Linked DNA regions of Homo sapiens. The protein of the gene in region 1 purifies or fractionates together with the protein of each later gene. This does not show direct contact. Each region holds a gene or a part of one and is shown in the gene's direction. Other genes may lie near its edges. The genes, in order: KIAA1328, TRIOBP, EDEM2 and CCDC102A.

Region 1 (3,567 bases):
AATACAGCACACTGATGGGTCTTGATTCTTTATCCAATTTGCCAGTCTGTGTCTTTTAATTGGGGCATTTAGCCCATTTACATTTAAGGTTAATATTGTTATGTGTGAATTCAATCCTGTCATTATGATGTTAGCTGGTTATTTTGCTCGTAGTTGATGCAGTTTCCTCCTAGCATCGATGGTCTTTACAATTTGGCATGTTTTTGCGGTGGCTGGTACCGGTTGTTCCTTTCCATGTTTAGTGCTTCCTTCAGGAGCTCTTGTAAGGCAGGCCTGGTGGTGACAAAATCTCTCAGCATTTGCTTATCTATAAAGGATTTTATTTTGCCTTTACTAATGAAGCTTAGTTTGGCTGGATATGAAATTCTGGGTTGAAAATTCTTTTCTTTAAGAATGTTGAATATTGGCCCCCACTCTCTTCTGGCTTGTAGAGTTTCTGCCGAGAGATCAGCTGTTAGTCCAATGGGCTTCCCTTTGTGGGTAACCTGACCTTTCTCTCTGGCTGCCCTTAACATTTTTTGCTTCATTTCAACCTTGGTGAATCTGACAATTATGTGTCTTGGGGTTGCTCTTCTCAAGGAGTATCTTTGTGGTGTTCTCTGTATTTCCTGAATTTGAATGTTGGCCTGCCTTGCTAGATTGGGGAAATTCACCTGCATAATATCCTGAAGAGTGTTTTCCAGCTTGGTTCCATTCTCCCTGTCACTTTCAGGTACACCAATCAAACGTAGATTTGGTCTTTTCACATAGTCTCATATTTCTTGGAGGCTTTGTTCGTTTCTTTTTACTCTTTTTTCTCTAAACTTCTTGCTTCATTTCATTTGTTATAGCCACAGGAGTTAGAGAAAATGCCACACTTTGAGACAAATTAAGAGTCCTTTATTTAAGCCGGCGGCCAAAGAGATGGCTAATGCTCAAAATTCTCTTGGCCCCGATGAAGGGGCTTAACTTTTATACCTAGGTTTAGGAAGGGGAGGGGGACTTAAATGCAATAACTCTACAGAAGTAAAAACATGCAAGAATCAAAAGAAGCAAATGGTTACAGAGAAATGAACAATTTAAAAGACAAATGGTTACAAAAAGAGCAAGGGTACCAGGTGCAAGGCTCTAAATCCTTCATTATAGTTAGATATAAATGCTATGCCAGACAGGAACTCAAGGCTTTGTGTTGTTATCTCTTTGAGCAAAACCCTGGGAACTTCATACATTGTTTGCTCCAGTATCTTACCAGTTAATTGGGCTCCTTTGAAATGCTGAGGATCTGCTTACACAGGTTAACTCCTTAAGGAAGGGGGTTGGGTAAGGAGCCCTTAATGTCTTGTAAATCAAGAGGTCAAATGGAGTTTGTCCGGCTTTCCCAGCCAGGGAGAGTGTATTCATATGGGAAACATGGCTGGCAATTAAGGAGACAAAAAAAGGAAAATTTAAAGTAGTGAGCTAGAGTAAAAAACAAGGTTAGGCGTTACACATTCATTTGATCTTCAGTCACTGATACCCTTTCTTCCACTCGATGGAATCAGCTTCTGAAGCTTATGCATGCGTCACGTAGTTCTCCTGCCATGGTTTTCAGCTCCATCAGGTCATTTAAGGTCTTCTCTACACTGTTTATTCTAGTTAGCCATTCGTCTAATCTTTTTTCAAGGTTTTTAGCTTCCTTGAGATGGGTTCATACATCCTCCTTTAGCTTGGAGAATTTTGTTATTTCCAACCTTCTGAAGCCTACTTCTGTCAACTTGTCAAAGTTATTCTCTGTCCAGCTTTGTTCCATTGCTGGCGAGGAGCTGTGATCCTTTGGAGAAGAGGCACTCTGGTTTTTAGAATTGTCAGCTTTTCTGCTCTGGTTTCTCCCCATCTTTGTGGTTTTATCTACCTTTGATCTCTGATGATGGTGACCTACAGATGGGGTTTTGGTGTTGATGTCCTTTTTGTTGATGTTGATGCTATTCCTTTCTGTTTGTTAGTTTTCCTTCTAACAGTCAGGTGTCTCAGCTGCAGGTCTGTTAGAGTTTGCTGGAGGTCCACTCCAGACCCTGTTTGCCTGGGTGTCACCAGCAGATGGCTGCAGAACCGCAAATATTGCAGAACTGCAATATTGCTGCCTGATCCTTCCTCTGGAAGCTTCATCTCAAGGGGCACCCAGCTGTATGAGGTGTCAGTCGGCCCCTACTGGGAGGTGTCTCCCAGTTAGGCTACACAGGGGTCAGGGACCCACTTGAGGCAGTCTGTCCGTTCTCAGAGGTCAAACACCATGCTGGGAAAACCACTGCTCTCTTCAGAGCTGTCAGGGATGTTTAAGTCTGCAGAAGTTCCTGCTGCCTTCTGTTCAGCTCTGCCCTTCCCCCAGAGGTGGAGTCTACAGAGGCAGGCAGGCCTCGTTGACCTGCGGTGGGCTCCACCCAGTTTGAGCCTCCTGGCTGCTTTGTTTACCTACTGAAGCCTCAGCAATGGCAGATGCCCCTACCCCTGCCAGGCTGCTGTCTCGCGGGTCGATCTCAGACTGCTGCACTAACAGTGAGCAAGCCTCCGTGGGCATGGGACCTACTGAGCCAGGTGTGGTTTATAATCTTCTGGTGTGCCATTTGCTAAGACTGTTGGAAAAGCGCAGTGTTTGGGTGGCAGTGTCCCTATTTTCCAGGTACTGCCTGTCATGGCTTCCCTTGGCTAGGAAAGGGAAGTCCCCCGACCCCTTGCGCTTCCTGGGTGAGGTGATGCCCCACCTTGCTTCGGCTTGCCCTCTGTGGGCTGCACCCACTGTCCATCCAGTCCCAATGAGATGAACCAGGTACCTCAGCTGGAAATGCAGAAATCACCCATCTTCTTTGTCGATCACACTGGGAGCTGCAGACTGGTGCTGTTCCTATTCAGCCATCTTGGAACTGTATCCCCCAATTTTTTCTAATTTTTAATTTTGAGGAGGATCTTTCTGTTGATGCAACTGACAGTGGAGCTGCTAAGAGTATTTTGTAGGCTGTGCCAACATTTGCATAGATTTCTAATAAAGTATTTCCAAATATGAATTTTAGTTTATATAGAGGTGATTATTCTTGGGGATCAGATTTTCTAAAAAGATTTAACTCTTCATACACATTAGTTTCATACATGTTGGAATTTAATTTTAAATACAAATCTCTATGATGTCATTTTAATGTTTTCTCTAGCATGTTCTGTAACATATAAAGATCATATAAGAAACCAAAAATCACTTAATGATTTGTCTATAATTCACAGTGCTTGTTTATGCTTTCTATAGCAGCATCTTCAGTTACAAAGAAAAATTAAATTTAAAAATTGTATTCCTCATTAATAATTGGTTCATTAGAAATTGCATATGAGAATAGTGGGTTTTTTCCTATCAAATGCAACAATCTTTAATTTTTATTTCCAAACCTGTGGATGTTCGCTTTCCAGTGTTGTAGCAGTTTTTAAAACCAGAGATTCTAAACTCTTTGAAGGCTTCTAATATATCTCTGATATGCTTCATTGTAATGTCCACGTGTATGTTTTTATTTTCTAATAATTTACTGGCATTTATACTTAATGCTAGCAGTTCCTATCCCAGTTCTCAGG
Region 2 (3,567 bases), on another chromosome or scaffold:
GTCACCCAGGCTGGAGTGCAGTGGCGCGATCTCAGCTCACTGCAACCTCCACCTCCTGGGGTCAAGCGATCCTCCTGCCTCAGCCTCCTGAGTAGCTGGGATTACAGGCACGTGCCACCACGCCTGGCTAAGTTTTGTATTTTTAGTAGAGATTGGGTTTCACTATGTTGACCAGGCTGGTCTCGAACTCCTGACCTCAAGTGATCCACCCACCTCAGCCTCCCAAAGTGCTGTGATTAGAGGCATGAGCCACCACACCTGGGCTAATTTTTGTATTTTTAGAGACTAGGTTTCACTATGTTGTCTAGGCTGGTCTTGAACTCCTGAGCTCAAGCCATCCGCCTGCCTCAGCCTCCCAAAGTTCTGGGATTACAGGCGTGACCCATTGCGCCCTGCCCAATCCCATACTTTTGAAGGTGTCGTTCCAGCATGGCTCCTCAGGCACAGGCCCACCACAGACAGCAGGGCCTATGGAGGCCTGAGCAGAGTTTCCTCATACTTCCCTTTTTGCTGCCTCACTCTGGGTCCACCACAGGGTGGCCTTTTTCAGGCTTCTCTTCCTGGTTCAGTTCATCGACCAAAGACATGGCTCCATTTGCTAACTGAGACCCAACCAAAATAAACATTCATGGAGTGGTTGGGCCTTTTGTTGTGACCCCTTAGGTAGAGGAAGGGAGAGATATGCCCAGGTTCTGTTTGGTGTTTCTACCTGTCAATAGAGATACCACGTTAATCATTAACAGCCATGCCTCCCAGTTAGTAAGCAAGACAACTAACTGGAACTAGACTTTTTACACAAGTTAGAGATGATCTTCATCGGATGCGTCAACAATGCCTGAAGCCCAGTGTCTTAGAAACAACACTTGCCCAGGGTCAGGCGTGGTGGCTCATGCCTGTAATCCCAGCTACTTGGGAGATTAAGGCAGAGAATCACTTGAACCCGGGAGATGGAAGTTGCAGTGAGCCGAGATCGCGCCACTGCACTCCAGCCTGGGTGACAGAGCGAGACTCCATCTCAAAAAAAAAAAAAAAAAAAAGACACTTGCTTGGACAGTTTATGTTGGCCTCTCTGAAGTTGTCAGGGAGAATGTTTCTTTCTTCTGATCTTGCTCAGAGCTCTTTTGCCAACAGCTAGGATGGCCTGGAGTTTTCAAGGCTAAGCGCTGGGATTCTGTTGGTTAACAGTGATGGGAGGGAAAAAGGAAAAGAAATCCAAAATTTACAATATGGACAGGAAAAGGCAGAAAGAATGGAACACGGGGGCACACAGCAGTCTGGCTCTGTCGTCCCACCTCGTGGGCTGCGATCATGATACAAGTGCTTGGCCCCTGGAACATAAGAAGCACTCAATAAATGCTTTGTCATAATGATTATGTGTGCCCAGTGCCTGGTACACAGTAGGTGCTCAATAAATCTTAATTCCCGCAAAGACCAGTCTAACCTTTGTCTGGGGGTGGCTCTTGGGCTGCTGGTGGGGTGGTGGTTAGTCATAGGAAGTACTGGATGAGACAGGAGAGGGCCATGGCCAGGGCCAGATCCCCCTCCCCACCCAACCGCCTCTACTCCCCACTTTTCTCGTCATGTTCGCAAGAGCCTCATGAGGCAGAATAGAGCAGTGTTAACCATCCCCATTTTTCAGAAGGGGAAACTAAGGCCCTGAGAGTCATCCTCACTTAGGGCCCTTCAACGAGCTTGCAGTGGGTCCCTGGCTGTCCCACATCTCCTCCTGTTGGAGGTGGGAGCAGAGGGGCTGGGGTGCTGGGAGTGGGACAGTCCCTCAGAGGAGTGGCTGCATTTGCTCATAGGAAGTCCGAGGCAGCGGGGGCCTTCCAGGCCCAGGACGAGGGACGGTCACAGCAGCCCAGCCAAGGCCAGAGCCAACTTCTCCGAAGACAGTCCAGCCCTGCCCCCAGCAGGCAGGTGAGCACTGCCAGCTGTCTGGGGCCCCGCACCCCAAGGGGCGGCCACTGCCTCTTCCCTCCCGCTAGAAGCCAGGCAGGGGGCTTGGACAGGAAGGTCCTCTATGAAAGGGTCGGAGTCCAATCATGGGGATCCAGCTCTCCCCTCTCCCCAACGGCCAGCAGCTCTTGGCAAAATGCACAAGACCCCACATTAATCCTTTGAAGATAGCCCCTCTCCCACGCTATCCCCTTCCTTTACTAAGCACTGCTGTCTTTTTTTTTTTTTTTTTTTTTTGAGATGGAGTCTTGCACTGTCTCCCAGGCTGGAGTGCAGTGGGACAATATTGGCTCACTGCAACCTCTGCCTCCCAGGTTCAAGTGATTCTTCTACCTCAGCCTCCCAAATAGCTGGGATTACAGGCGTGTGCCACCACACCCAACTAATTTTCGTACTTTTAGTAGAGACAGGGTTTCACCATGTTGGCCAGGCTGGTCACTCCTGACGTCAAGTGATCCGCCCACCTTGGCCTCCCAAGGTGCTGGGATTACAGGCGTGAACCACGGCACCTGGCCAATACTGCTGTCTTGAGCAGATTTCAGGGAAAGCCTTGAAGCAAGAATCTGGCTCTAAGGGCCCTCTCTTTCAGGGTAATTTGTATCTTTAACCAAACCCAGAGGGCTAGGCCCGCCTCAGTGGAATGGGGTATTGGTGGTGGAGGTTCTGGCACCTGATAGCCCAAGTTGGAATCAGTATCTTTGAGAGGGGTGAGAAGCCAAGAACGGGGGCAGGTCTTTGCAGATCTTTTTCTGGAACTGAGGAAAGCGGGTGAAAGGGAGGAGCTGACCCCGGAGGGGTGGGGCAGAGACCCTGTGTACTTTTTGGCCTGCTTTGATTCAGGCTGCTGTGTGGACACAGCCTTGACTCTCTGGGGGCCTAAGAAAGGCAGAGCTGGCAGCCAGGTCCCCAGAGAGAGAGCCTCACCTACCCCCTCACCTCATCCCCAGGTGACCATGCTCCCTGCCAAACAGGCAGAACTGACCCGGCGGAGCCAAGCAGAGCCCCCTCATCCTTGGAGTCCTGAGAAGAGACCTGAGGGAGATCGGCAGCTCCAGGGGTCCCCGCTGCCCCCCAGGACATCAGCCAGGACCCCTGAGAGGGAGCTGCGGACACAGAGACCTCTGGAGAGTGGCCAAGCAGGCCCAAGACAGCCTCTGGGGGTGTGGCAGAGTCAGGAGGAACCGCCAGGGTCCCAGGGCCCTCATAGACACCTAGAAAGGAGCTGGAGCAGCCAGGAGGGAGGCCTGGGCCCTGGGGGCTGGTGGGGATGTGGAGAGCCCAGCCTGGGGGCAGCCAAAGCCCCGGAGGGAGCATGGGGGGGCACTTCCAGGGAGTACAAGGAGAGCTGGGGGCAGCCAGAGGCCTGGGAGGAGAAGCCCACTCATGAGCTCCCCAGAGAACTAGGAAAGAGAAGCCCACTCACGAGCCCCCCTGAGAACTGGGGAGGCCCCGCAGAGTCCTCACAATCCTGGCACTCTGGGACACCCACTGCTGTGGGCTGGGGGGCAGAGGGAGCGTGTCCATACCCGCGTGGCTCTGAGAGGCGACCCGAGCTTGACTGGAGGGATCTGCTTGGCCTTCTCCGGGCACCAGGAGAGGGGGTCTGGG
Region 3 (3,567 bases), on another chromosome or scaffold:
CAGCAACCTCCGCCTCCTGGGTTCAAGCAATTCTCCTTCCTCAGCCTCCCAAGTAGCTGAGATTACAGGCATGCACCACCACACCTGGCTAATTTTGTATTTTTAGTAGAGACAGGGTTTCTCCGTGTTGGTCAGGCTGGTCTCGAACTCCCAATCTCAGGTGATCCGCCCACCTCGGCCTCCCAAAGTGCTGGGATTATAGATGTGAGCCACCACGCCTGGCCTCCCCATTTTATAGATCATAAGGCTGAGGCTTAAAAGGGAAAAACCCACCCCAGGTCACGGTTAGCAAGTGGTAGAGCTGGAGCTGGAATTTGAGCTGGAAGTTTGACTCCAGAATCCATGCTCTTGTCTAGCCTCCTTGCCTCATTGCATCCTGGTGCTCTTTCCAAAGTGTAAGTTCTCGCTTCCGCTGTCCAGGCCTGCCTTTTTTCTCCCTAATCACTCATATGTCCATTATCCCATCTCCCCCACTGCAGAGTATAACAAAGCCATCCGGAACTACACCCGCTTCGATGACTGGTACCTGTGGGTTCAGATGTACAAGGGGACTGTGTCCATGCCAGTCTTCCAGTCCTTGGAGGCCTACTGGCCTGGTCTTCAGGTAGGAATGATCAAAGAATGTGATCATCTTTCTATGAGTCTGGCAAAGCAAGCTCATTCTGATGTATAAGTCAAATAATGTACTTTGTTAATTGCTTGAGTACTTTTTTTGGAGGGACAGGTTGAGGATGGAAGAGAGACCTAGAGTGAATTAGATAGATTTAGAGTTCTGCCAAATTGAGTGTCAGGAACTGAGCTTCCAGTTTGCCATGGAGTGTTACAGTACTTAAAGTCGACAGTGCATTTCCAGTCTGGGCAGGAATGGCCATTGGCAACAGGTGTTTCTCCACTGGGCGTTTCTGTCCAATCTCATTCTTGACAGTGGGCCTCAGGAAGGGCAGGAAGCAGCTTGTGCCGCTGTGCCATCTCGTTGTTTTTCCATTACATGGTCTGGTAGAGTTGCAGCTGGAAGGATCTTAGAGCTTATCTAATCTACCCCACTTTGGTGTTCCAAAATAGTGCATGTACCAAAATGTTTTTATAATCTACGTTTTTAAAAGTTTTAAGAAAAAGTAGTCCCACCTGGGCAACATAGTGAGACCTCATCTCTACAAAAAATAAAAAATTAGGTCGGGCGCGGTGGCTCAGGCCTATAATCCCAGCGCTTTGGCAGGCCGAGGCAGGCGGATCACAAGGTTAGGAGATTGAGACCATCCTGGCTAACACGGTGAAACCCCATCTCTACTAAAAATACAAAAAATTAGCTGGGCGTGGTGGTGGGCGCCTGTAGTCCCAGCTACTCGGGAGGCTGAGGCAGGAGAATGGCATGAACCTGGGAGGCGGAGCTTGCAGTGAGCTGAGATTGCGCCACTGCACTCCAGCCTGGATGACAGAGCAAGACTCCGTCTCAAAAAAATAAAAATAAATAAATAAAAATAAAAATAAAAAATTAGCCTAGGGTGGTGGCACATGCCTGTAGTCCCAGCTACTCAGGAGACTGCAGTGGAAGGATTGCTTGAACCCAGAAGATCAAGGCTGCAGTGAGCCATGATCATGCCATTGCAGCCTGGGTGACAGAGTGAGACCCTGTCTCAAAAAAAAAAAAAAAAAGTGGCCACCGGGTTTCTATCCAGAATAACCAGGTAGACATTGTGTCATTTACCAAGAAGGGAAAAAGGCCAAAGTAGGGAGGCAATTTCGTGGGAAAGTAAGGGAACCAAGAATTTTGTTTAGGAAGTGCCAAGTTTGTTCTGTCCATGAGACATCCAATGAAGATGTCAGGGTCAGCTGCTTCCCTGTGAGATTACATTAATAGTAATGGCTACTTAGCAATAGTGGTAAAATTATAAATGCATATATCCTTTGACCCAGTGATCCTAATTCTGAAAATGTATCTTACACATAACATTTTACATCTATTTGATGTGACATATATACAGAATTATTTATTGCCACATTAGTTGTTGGAACCAATTCAAATAAAAATATCTGAAAGCCAAATTTCCATATCTAAAAATATGGAGATAATTAATATCCCTATTAATAAAGAACCAAAGGCTATTTTTTAGTGTGGGGAAAATAACATATACTCATGCATAAAGAAACTCTGAAAGGTTATACAAGAAACCAGTAATGTTTATCTGAGGCCAGGCAAGATGGGTGATGGTTGTAATCCCAGCACTTTGGAAGGCTGAGGTAGGAGGATCACTTGAGCCCAGGAGATTAAGACCAGCCTGGGCAACAAAGTGAGACCCCCATCTCTACAGAAAATAAAAAAATTAGCACTGGGAGGCTGAGGTGAGAGGATCTCTTGAGCCCAGGAGGTCAAGGCTGTAATGAACCGTGATTGTGCCACTGCACTCCAGCCTAGGTGACAGAGCGAGACCCTGTCTCAAAAACAAAAACAAAAATGGTTATCTTTTGGGGGTGTGGTGTGGGAGTGAGCCTTAGCACAAACTTTTCTCTATTCTTAGAATTTTTAACTGGCTGGCCGAATTCCAAAACTGTTAGCTGACATTGACTCTGAAGATTTAGGGACTTAATATACAATCTTTGTTCCTTCCAACAATGCATGAGATAGGTGGTGTATTTTACGTTTTATAGATGGGGCTCAGAGAAGTCCAGTGCCTGGCTCAGCACCACACTGAGTAACTGGCAGACTCAGGGATTGATTCAAGGCCTTTTTGGCCCCACAGATTTTACTTTGTCTTTTCTTAAGGTTGTCTGTGGGGTTTTATGCCTGGTGTCTACCTGCCTGACAGCCACTTTCTCCCACAGAGCCTCATTGGAGACATTGACAATGCCATGAGGACCTTCCTCAACTACTACACTGTATGGAAGCAGTTTGGGGGGCTCCCGGAATTCTACAACATTCCTCAGGGATACACAGTGGAGAAGCGAGAGGGCTACCCACTTCGGCCAGGTGAGCAGCATTTCTGGCTTGTCATCTGCCCACAGGCTCTGGTTGCTGAAACCCCAAATCCCCTCTACAAGGCTCCATCCTCCACAACTGCCCACAAGTTCATTTCTTTCCATCTGTTCCTTTCAGTGGCTCTGGGTGGTTTTCTTACTAGGAGTTAATTATCCCCATGTTTTCAGATATGGAAACTGAGGCCTAGTGGGATGAAATGGCTCGCCTCTGGCTCTTAAGTGCAGGAGCTAGGCCTGGAACCCAGGGCTCCTAACTAAATTGCATGCTCTTTTTTATTTTTATTTTTTTGAGATGGAGTTTCGCTATTGTTGCCCAGACTGAAGTGCAATGGTGTGATCTCGGCTCACCGCAACCTCCGCCTCCTGGGTTCAAGCGATTCTCCTGCCTCAGCCTCCCGAGTAGCTGGGATTACAGGCATGAGCCACCATGCCCAGCTAATTTTGTATTTTTAGTAGAGATGGAGTTTCTCCATGTTGGTCAGGCTGGTCTTGAACTCCCAGCCTCAGGTGATCCGCCCACCTTGGCCTCCCAAAGTGCTGGGATTACAGATGTGAGCCACTGCGACTGGCCCCATATGCTCTTTCAAATCAGGA
Region 4 (3,567 bases), on another chromosome or scaffold:
TGAATGGATGGCAGGATGGACATGTGGGTGGGAAGATGGGAAGAAAAATGAACAGAAGACAAGATGGATGTGTGCATGGATGAACCAATGGGTAAAGGAATGAATGGATGGATGAATGGGAGAGAGAGGCAGGGCGGGCAGATGGATGGGTGGATCCAATGGATGTATGAACAGATGATGGCTGGATGGGTAGAGAGTGGACAGATGGATGGACAGCTGACTGGGTCAGTGGGTGGAAGAACGAATACAGAGGGAGAAAGAAGGCCAGGTTGACGGGAAGATAGGTGTGTCCGGGAGAGCAGGAAGGCATGGCTAGGCATGCTAGATGGGCTGCTGATTAGATTAATGGATGGGGAGTGGTGGGTGACTGTCTCCATGGGCAGATGAATATCTCCCTGGACGAATGGTCCGATGGACAGACTGATGGGGACAGAAGGATAGGAGGTGGATGGCTGCATCAGTAGTGCAGGGCCTGGGAGGATGGGTAGATGTGCAAGAGGAGGCAAAGGGGATGGAGAGGAACCAAAGGGATGCTTTTCTAGAAGAGGTAAGCCTTAGCCTAGGCCTCAAGGAGCAAACACTCTCGGAGGAGCACCTTCCCAGGGAACAGCAGGAGTGGTTTTCCCTGGGCGGGTGGCCGGCCTTGCCCAGCCCTGGGTGACCCTCGTGCTTTCGGCCCTGCTCACCCCCACAGCTGGACGAGGCCCACAACCAGGCACGTAAGCTGCAGCGGTCGCTGGACGAGCAGACGGAGCAGAGCGAGAACCTGCAAGTGCAACTGGAGCACCTGCAGTCCAGGTGGGCCCCGGGCAGGGAACAGAAACAGGGCAGAGACTTCCAGCCAGGGAACCCTCCGGTCAGGGACGGAGCCCAAACCAAGGCTGGAGGGGGAGACGAAGGAAGAGATCCAGGTGCCTGGAGCCAGAATCCTGTCCCCTCCGGGCAGGAAGGGCCAGAGCCAGGAAACCAGGGCAGGGGGTGCAGGAAGTCAGGCCAGCTGCAGGCCCTGGAATTGTCTCCTCTAGCAGGAGGGCTGGTGGGTAGAGTGAGGGCAGGAAGGGCGGGCTGGAGAGGTCAGGCCCAAGGCTTGGGGCAGTGGGTGGGGCCAGCAGGGCTCAAATAGGCAGCCCTCAGCGTTACTGGGCCCAGGTGACACCAAGACAGCAGGGATCTGAGAGACTGGTGAGCAGGGACTCGTGGAGGGGCCCCAGGCCTGGATCCCGTCCACTGCCAACAGGCCCCACCCAGCACACTCTGCCTCCCTCTCCCAACCCTGTCTCTGTCCCAGCACTCTGTGAATCACAGAACCAGGCGATATCAGAAAACTTCAGTCCACGTCCCTCCCACTTCACAGCTGGGAGGCCCAAGGAGCATCGGAGCCACAGCATTGACCTGTGCCGGGCCCTGAGAATGCACTTAGTTGCATTCTCTTCTTTCGTGGAATAGAGGGTGCCCGGTTCTGCAGCCAGACTGCCTGAATGGTCTGAAGCCTGGCTCAGCATTAGCAGCTGTGTGGCCTTGGGACATTTATTTAACCTCTCTGTGTCAGTTTCTTCATCTGTAAAATGGGGATGATGATAGTTCTTACCTCTTGATTGTTGTGAGTATTAAATGAGCTGATCCATTCTTAAGAAAGTACCTGGAGGCATGGTAGCTCACACCTGTAATCCCAACAGTTTGGAAGGCCAGGGCAAGAGGATTGCTTGAGACCAGGAGTTTGAGACCCCCTGGGCAACAAAGCAAGACCCCCATGTCTACAAAAAATACAAAACTTAGCCAGGCATGGTGGTGTGTGCCTGTAGTTCCAGCTACTTGGGAGACCGAGGCAGGAGGATCACTTGAGCTCAGGAGTTCATAGCTATAGTAGTGAGCTGTGATCACACCACGGTACTCCAGCCTGGGAGACAAAGTGAGATCCCGTCTCTAAGAAAAAAAGAAAGAAAACACCTGGCACATAATAAATGCTGAGTGATTGTCAGCAGCTGCTGCTATTACTACTGTTACTACTACCGCTGCGGAGGGGCTTATATTTGGGTTACATGTTGTGCATCAGCATCACGCTGCTTCTATGAGAGAAAGGAAAGATGTTTTTTCCTAGGGGGCTGGCAGATGAGGAAACTAAGGCCCAAGAGGGTAAGTCTTTCCATGGCCACACAGTTGGTGGGTGGCCAGGCAGAATCACCCCTGGCCATCAGCCATCCAAGCCCTTATTTATTGAGCATTTACTATATGCTGCTGTTTGCTGAGATCTTGTGGCTTAGAGAATGGGCTGCAGAGACCTAACAGCTATTGTGCCATGGTAAACTGAGCCTCGATTTCCCCATCTGCCTGGGATGACGCCCATAAAGTGTTGTGCAGGGGCCCAGGCGTGGGCCCAAGTCAGGACCCATGCCTGGCTGGCTCTGCCTGCTCTGACCCTGCAGCACACACCCTTCAAAAGACCACTTAGCCTTGGGGCTTTCCCGCAGTCTGGGTCACATTGTTCAGGAGCCATAAACTCCAGAAGTGGGCAGGCAGGCCCTGCTGGGCCTCTCAAGTGCTTCCATCGGGGAGGGTGGGGCCACCCAGGACCGCTGTGTCGTTTTATTTTCCAACTTTTTGTGCTTTAATGTTCCGGGGACAGCTCACTAAATCACTGTGCAGTAATGGAGGCCCCCGCCTGTGCCCCTCCCTTACGTGTTAATAATTCATGTCTTCCAGTAAGATGCAGCCGGGGCGGCCACTTTGCTGGGGGGTTGGGGGAGGGATCGGCATTTCCTTCACCAGCTCTTCTTAGACTCAAAGTTTTCCTCGTAAATTTTGACTTTAGGAATTTTAATGTGAGGAAGAACTAGGGCTGAGCCCTTTCTCACTGACACTGGGAATGTAGAGGGCTCAGCCCACCCTGCACTGTCACACCAACCAACTCTGCTGCCTGTGCTCTGAGAGCCAGGCTTGGGTTCAAATCCTGCAGCATGACCTTGAGCCAGCTCCTTCACCTCTCTAACCGCCCAGCTGCTCTGGCACCACCCACTTCAGTTCAGAGCTCTGCCCCACTCCCCACCATCTGTGTGACTTTGAGCAAATGACTTCACCTTTCTGTGCCTCGGTTTCCTTGCTTGTAAAATGGGGGTGATAATGGCACTTCTATCATATAAGGAGATTACAGGAGATGAGACAGCAGGGAAAGCACCAGGGAAGGCTTAACTGCTCCAGCACCAGCTGCAGCCACCTTATCGGGGGACTACCAGCCAGGCTGCTCTAACCTCCTGTCACCCCCACCCCACAGGCTCCGCAGGCAGCAGCAGAACGCTCCCCTCTTCGGGAAGATCCGCAGTGCTCGCTTTGGCACCGAGGAGGCCGAGGATGGAACCAGTGACCTGGACGAGGACGAGGACCTGCAAATCCAGGTGGCCTAGAGCTTCCTGTGGCTGGGCAGGATGGGCCGCCCCATACCTGCCCAGGGTCCAGGCTAACCAGCCACTCAAACTGATGCAGTGCCTAGGCTCACTCTGGGACCAGTCCCTGCCACAGCCGACTTTCTTCTCTCCCAGGGATGGCGTCAACAGTCCCACCTACCAACGCCCT

Evidence for each region.
Region 2: the proteins of KIAA1328 (region 1) and TRIOBP purify together in Homo sapiens (affinity purification with mass spectrometry; one large-scale study listed by BioGRID and IntAct). This does not show direct contact.
Region 3: the proteins of KIAA1328 (region 1) and EDEM2 purify together in Homo sapiens (affinity purification with mass spectrometry; one large-scale study listed by BioGRID and IntAct). This does not show direct contact.
Region 4: the proteins of KIAA1328 (region 1) and CCDC102A purify together in Homo sapiens (affinity purification with mass spectrometry; one large-scale study listed by BioGRID and IntAct). This does not show direct contact.

What each region holds. Positions count from the first base shown.
Region 1 is NC_000018.10:37,217,087-37,220,653, forward strand, and holds part of KIAA1328 (protein hinderin), read left to right. Parts: intron 1-3,567. UniProt on the Homo sapiens protein: Competes with SMC1 for binding to SMC3. May affect the availability of SMC3 to engage in the formation of multimeric protein complexes.
Region 2 is NC_000022.11:37,731,493-37,735,059, forward strand, and holds part of TRIOBP (TRIO and F-actin-binding protein), read left to right. Parts: intron 1-1,805; coding exon 1,806-1,920; intron 1,921-2,906; coding exon 2,907-3,567.
Region 3 is NC_000020.11:35,123,288-35,126,854, reverse strand, and holds part of EDEM2 (ER degradation-enhancing alpha-mannosidase-like protein 2 isoform 1 precursor), read left to right. Parts: intron 1-479; coding exon 480-604; intron 605-2,820; coding exon 2,821-2,965; intron 2,966-3,567. Other genes in the region: MMP24-AS1-EDEM2 (ER degradation-enhancing alpha-mannosidase-like protein 2), read left to right, coding at 480-604, 2,821-2,965. UniProt on the Homo sapiens protein: Involved in the endoplasmic reticulum-associated degradation (ERAD) pathway that targets misfolded glycoproteins for degradation in an N-glycan-dependent manner.
Region 4 is NC_000016.10:57,512,572-57,516,138, reverse strand, and holds part of CCDC102A (coiled-coil domain-containing protein 102A), read left to right. Parts: intron 1-694; coding exon 695-798; intron 799-3,268; coding exon 3,269-3,398; 3' UTR 3,399-3,567.